Linked DNA regions of Homo sapiens: region 2 is linked to region 1. Evidence: fine-mapped expression QTL. A gene starts in region 1. The other region holds a variant in brackets. All regions are shown on one strand. Distances are between the middles of the regions.

Evidence for each region. PIP is the estimated chance that this variant, and not a neighbour inherited with it, causes the effect.
Region 2: its variant is the best candidate, but not a certain one, in a credible set for the expression of GLI1 in blood mononuclear cells (TOPMed, PIP 0.55).

The regions. Positions count from the first base shown.
Region 1 is chr12:57,458,399-57,461,192 of GRCh38, forward strand. GLI1 (GLI family zinc finger 1) reads left to right here and starts at 1,387. Exons shown (of 12, transcript NM_005269.3): 1 at 1,387-1,803. LOC124902947 (a long non-coding RNA gene) reads right to left here. Exons shown (of 2, transcript XR_007063335.1): 2 at 1-1,163. RefSeq lists enhancers at 976-1,055, 1,066-1,115.
Region 2 is chr12:57,171,103-57,173,896 of GRCh38, forward strand. It overlaps LRP1 (LDL receptor related protein 1), which reads left to right. Exons shown (of 89, transcript NM_002332.3): 21 at 2,066-2,248; 22 at 2,678-2,794. Among named protein-coding and RNA genes, the nearest start is that of MIR1228, 22 kb to the right of the region's middle. RefSeq lists a silencer at 2,016-2,229. The variant G/A (reference allele first, on the strand shown) is at 1,407.

The DNA.
Region 1 (2,794 bases):
CCTAACCTAATGACTTTTAAGAGTATAGAGGAAACCAAAAAGTTTGAGACTCACTGGTCTATAGAACTGGGTGGGGAGAAGAAAGTAAGGTGTTCTAAGAGAGCTCTTCTTGCTGGGCACCGGTGGTCCCAGCTACTTAGGAGGCTAAGGCCGGAAGACCGCTTAAACCCAGGAGTTCGAGGCTATGATCACACTTGTGAATAGCCTCTGCACTCCAGCCTGGGCAAATAGTGAGGCCCCGTCCCAAATAAAAATAAATAAATACATAAATACATAAATAGCTCCTCTGGAAGAAGGGGCTCGAGGCTGGGACAGGAGCATGTGTGGGGTGCCTTTTTTTCAGTGCCCATTAGTCTGGTCTGACTGAGCTGGGTCTCTGACCCTCTGGGGATAACTAGCCTGGGTCAAAGTCCCAGATCTCCCCCTACCTTCACCTTTTCTTTTCCCCCTTGACCCTCAGACTGAACAGTTAACCCACTGACCTTCCACACCCAAGGGGGTGGTTCTTGGAAGCAGAGCTAGGATGTGGGAGGTCTGCCTGTGGGGTTGAAAAAAAGGGGAGAGGGTGCCCTTTTTCCTTGTCATGCTTCCTCCTCTTTCTCATAAAAATCAGAGACTGAAATGCTGCCCCTCCCTTATATCCGGTCACGATGGCAATGCAAATCTAAAGAGGCAGGGCACTTCCCTGTCAGGCAGTACCGCTGGGCATAGCAACCTCTGCCTCTCCGTTTCTCAGAGCTCACATATCCACCTCCTGGGCTTTTAAGTGGGCTTTAGTGAGGGGCTCCTCCTTCAACTGGGCTCCTCCTTCAGTTCCCCAGCTCTTCTGCTTCGACTCCGAGCGGGTGTCATGTGTGAGAACGGCCAGCAGAGGGAGCAGAAAGCCTGGAAGAGCAGCTAGAGCCTGCAGTGACGTGGTGCGGAGGGGCGGCACCCTCCAGAACTTCGAGACGTAGAGCCGGGGTTCTAGGGAAAGGGGCTTCAGTCCCAGGGCTCCTTGGTGACCTCGTGAACCACACCCTGCACCCAGAGCCTCAGCCGCTGCTCCTTGCTTTTATGCTCCATAGACTCCTCACCTTCTTCCAGAGCCCCCAACCCAACTTGATTTGCCCCAAACCGCAACTCTGTCCCGGCCGCTGCAAGTTCCATCCAAAGGGTGAGGCCTGCAGATAAACCACAGGATGGCAGAATGCTCAGTTAGCACCAACCAAAGGCGACTACCCTACCTCCACTATTATCGTTCTCGGTTGAACTTCTCCCCCTGCCCCGCAATATTTTCCTCAATCTGGTTGTCGGGGCCTCTTTGGGGCCAGCCGATCCAGAAATCCAAGCCGGGATTTAGTACTCACCAACAGCAGCGTGTTCAGCCGGGGCGGGGGGGGGGGCGTAAGCAGTATAGGGTCCCTCAAGGGAGGGGGAGGATCCTGGGGGTCCTGGGGGTGCAATAAGCCCGGCACCCCTTCTCTTGCTTCCAGCTACCCCGCCTCATCCTCCAGAACGGCAAGAGGGAGGGAAATAGAAGGGAGGTGAGGGGCGAGCGGGAAGAGCGGCGGCGCGCCAGCGGCTGGAGAGAGAAAAAGTTTTTGCAAAAGGGAAAAAAAAAGTTTGCGCTTCTCGCGGGTGGTCCGGGCTTGCGGCCCGGCGGGCTGGGCCGGCGGGAGGGCTGGGGGCCAGGTTGGGGGGGTGGGGGTGGCATCGAGGCTGCGCTGCCGTGGCCCTCTCCGCCCCCCCTCCCCACCGCACACCCCCCAGCCCAGACTCCAGCCCTGGACCGCGCATCCCGAGCCCAGCGCCCAGACAGAGGTGAGAAGGGGGGGCAGGCGGGGGACCACCTGGGAGCAGTGGGGGAGGGGGCCTGAGGGGATGCTCAGCTTCTTAGGGACTCATCCCAGACCCGGGACATAGAGGCAAAATAGGGGTGGGAGAGCCTGGGGTGAGACATTAGAAACTCCAGATTTTTCACTTGTGTCTTTCTCTGTATCTTCTTTTTCTTCCCTTTTTTTCTTCTGTCAGTCTGTGTATCTCTGTCTCAGGGAACCGTGGGTCTTTGTCTCCGCCTCTCCCATATATTAGAAATATCTTACTTTCATGCGGTTAAGTTTAAGAGGCTGGAGGGATGGCTAGCTGGAGGTCTGCGTTGTAGAGAGGTAACCCCAGGTGTGTGTCTGCGCGTGGGGTAGGAAGATGTCAGTGTTTCTGAAAGGTGGGGACTGCAAAGGAGGGAGCTCCAGGTGGGGTGGGGACGGGTGTGTGGGAGGCAACAGAGCCACTAGGGGCCAGCCAGGCTTGAACCTTTGACCTGTCTTGTGACAGATGTGCCAGTGGATGCTTGTGCTTTAGGGGAAAGGAGTGTCTTCTGGACTTGGAAGGGGGCTGGGGCGGGGGGGGGCTGTCCAAGGTCTAGTGAAGGCCCTAGAATGACCCCATGCAATTTGGACTCCTGAGTCCCAAGGGCTGTGGGCAAGGAGCTCAGGAGGAGCCGGGGAGACCTTGTCTTGACCCTCTGACCTCAGGACCACCGGGGCAGCGGGAGCCAGCCGCAGGGAGACCCCTACCGGGGCTGGGCGGGACCACTGGCCACTGCCAGCCTGTGTATCCCCGTTGGCACCCCGCCCAAACGGGAGCTGGGGATCGAGGCCCCTCCTCTGGCTCAGACCACCCTGCCTGCCCTTGCTCCCCGCTCTGAATCCTCTTTCAGGTCCCATGACCCCGAAACAATCAGCACTGGGCAGCTAGCTTTCGGGACAGGATTACGGAAAGGGGACCCCGTAGAGCCTGGGGACTGAGGGTTTTA
Region 2 (2,794 bases), 290 kb before region 1:
GGCCTCTGGAGGCTGTGTGGTGTGGTGAGAAGAGCTCCCTGCCGCTCCCAGATAAGCTGGGCAAATTTGGACAAGTTGCTTCCCCTGAGCCTGGGCATCCTCCTTTATGAAATGAGCTGAGGTATGTGAGGCCTGGCGTGGAGGAGCAGGGTGTCACTATTGGTAGCAGTTGTTAACTATGGTATGAGCTGGATGGTCTGGGACCATTCAGGAGGAGTTGTGTTTAGACTGCAGGTAAATGGACAGGAGGGAGGGTCTTCCAGTGGGGATGGCATGGTCCGGAGAATGCTGTCGTCAAGACTTAGAGGGTGAAACTGAGCACTTCCGTAGGGTGACAGTGGGGCCAGGTGGAGCCGTTCAGACCGAGGGAAAGGCTCGTGCAGGGACAGTGGGGAATGAGGCTGTCCTCAAAGGGGGCAGATGATGACAGCAGGTGTAAATCGTGAGAGGCTTGATTTGGGAGGCACTGGGAACCTTTGAAGGATTTCCAAGCCGGAAGGTGCTGTGATGTAGGAGGTGATTTCGGAACACAGCCCTAGAGGAAGATTAGATTGAGAAGAGGTTCAGGGGCCCCAAGAAAGGAAAATCAGTTCAGAGACTGCTGCTGAAAGTCCCGGCATGAGATGAGAGCATCAGCTGGGTCCAGGGTAGGGAAGGGGGAGGAGCGGGGTGTCTGTGGCAGCATGAGTGTATGAGTGTGGGGCTCCACCAGGCAGTGCTCCTGCTCCTCTCCTGGCCTCCTGAGTCAGATCTCAGGACAGCAGCCAGAGTGATCCTGACAACATAAGTCAGATCATGCCCTGGCCCTGCCCTCCAGCCTGTACTGGCTCCCTGCACCCTTGGAACAAATGCCAAGCCCCTCTGCACGGCCTGCAGGGCCCCCACCCCTACCCCTCTGACCTGCATTCCTGCCCTCCCCTCCCCCTGCACTCTACTCCAGCTGTGGCGTTTTCTTTTTTCTTTTTTTTTTTTTTTGAGATGGAGTCTCCCTCTGTCGCTCAGGCTGGAGTACAGTGGCGTGATCTCGGCTCACTGCAAGCTCTGCCTCCCGGGCAGCTGTGGCGTTTTCTTTTCTTTCTTTTTTTTTTGAGATGGAGTCTCTCTGTCGCCCAGGCTGGAGTGCAGTGGCGCAATCTCAGCTCACTGCAAGCTCCGCCTCCCAGTTCACGCCATTCTCCTGCCTCAGCCTCCCAAGTAGCTGGGACTACAGGTGCCTGCCACCACGCCTGGCTAATTTTTTGTATTTTTAGTAGAGACAGGGTTTCACCATGTTAGCCAGGATGGTCTCGATCTCCCGACCTCGTGATCCGCCCGCCTTGGCATCCCAAAGTGCTGGGATTACAGGCGTGAGCCACCGCGCCTGGCCTGTGTGCTGTTTTCTGAAGTGCTGGCGTAGTCCTATCTCG[G/A]AGATGAGACTTTGCAGCGGCTGTTCCCCTTGCCTGGAGTGTGCCTCCAGGGATCCTCTGGGCTCACTCGCTCTTCATGCAGGCCTCTGCTCAGATTCCTTCTGCCCAGAGGTCTTCCCTGACCATCTTACCTGACAGATCACCCCCATCCCTCTCAGCTTCTACCCAGCTTTATCTCCATAGCTTTATCAATACCTGAAATTACAGTCTAGATTTATGGGTTATGTCTTGTCTCTCTTCCCCATTAGAACCTAAGCTCCATGAGGGTAGGGACTTTGTCTGGTTCAGTGCTGGCCCCAGGACAGCGCCTGGCACACAGGAGGCACTCAGTAAACATTTGTGGCATGAATGAATGAAATAGAGGCTAAGGAGGTGGGCATTTGGGCTCAGGCCTTAGCAAATTGCTTCTCCAGCTGAGATCTCCGGTGTCAATGGGGGGATTAGATGAGGTGATTGTGGGGCCCTTGGAGGTGTGATGCCTCCTGACTCTACTACTGAGTTGGTGCTTCCAAGGAGTGTCAGCAAAGCTTGGCAGACTCTCCAGGCCTGCCTCTGCTCATATCCCCAGGCTGGGCTTACCGGGGTGGCAGGGCACAGGGATGAGGAGGGCTGACCTGGGCAACCCCTCCCTCCTGAGGCCCTCCACTGTCCCTCTGCAGCCACGAGGCCCCCTGGTGGCTGCCACACTGATGAGTTCCAGTGCCGGCTGGATGGACTATGCATCCCCCTGCGGTGGCGCTGCGATGGGGACACTGACTGCATGGACTCCAGCGATGAGAAGAGCTGTGAGGGAGTGACCCACGTCTGCGATCCCAGTGTCAAGTTTGGCTGCAAGGACTCAGGTGAAGAGGATGGTTGGAGGGCGTCTGGAACAGCACAATGTGGGCAGGAGGAGACCGTGTTGAGAGCAGAGTAGCGGCAAAGGGGATGGCACTGTGCTGTGTGGAGTGGTGCTGGGGACAGTGCAAGGCAAAAGGCAGTCCAGAGGAAGCTTGTGTGTCATGGGTGGGGGAAGGCATGAAGGGCCAGAGCCTGCACAGAGGACCTGAGAAGCCAAAACCCTACCAGAGTTGAGCTTCAGCACCTCCTGCTGCAGATTCCTGCCTTGTTTGTTGCCTATGTGAATTTGACCCAAAAAGCCTCGGGGTTCCTCGTGGACCCCACAGCGTTGCAATCCTGACCCTATTAGAGAAGCCCACAGGGTCTGGAAGGAAGGGCAGGGGGAGCCCCAGTCCCCGGGCCTGGGCCCTCATAGTGCACCTGTCCCTCAGCTCGGTGCATCAGCAAAGCGTGGGTGTGTGATGGCGACAATGACTGTGAGGATAACTCGGACGAGGAGAACTGCGAGTCCCTGGCCTGCAGGCCACCCTCGCACCCTTGTGCCAACA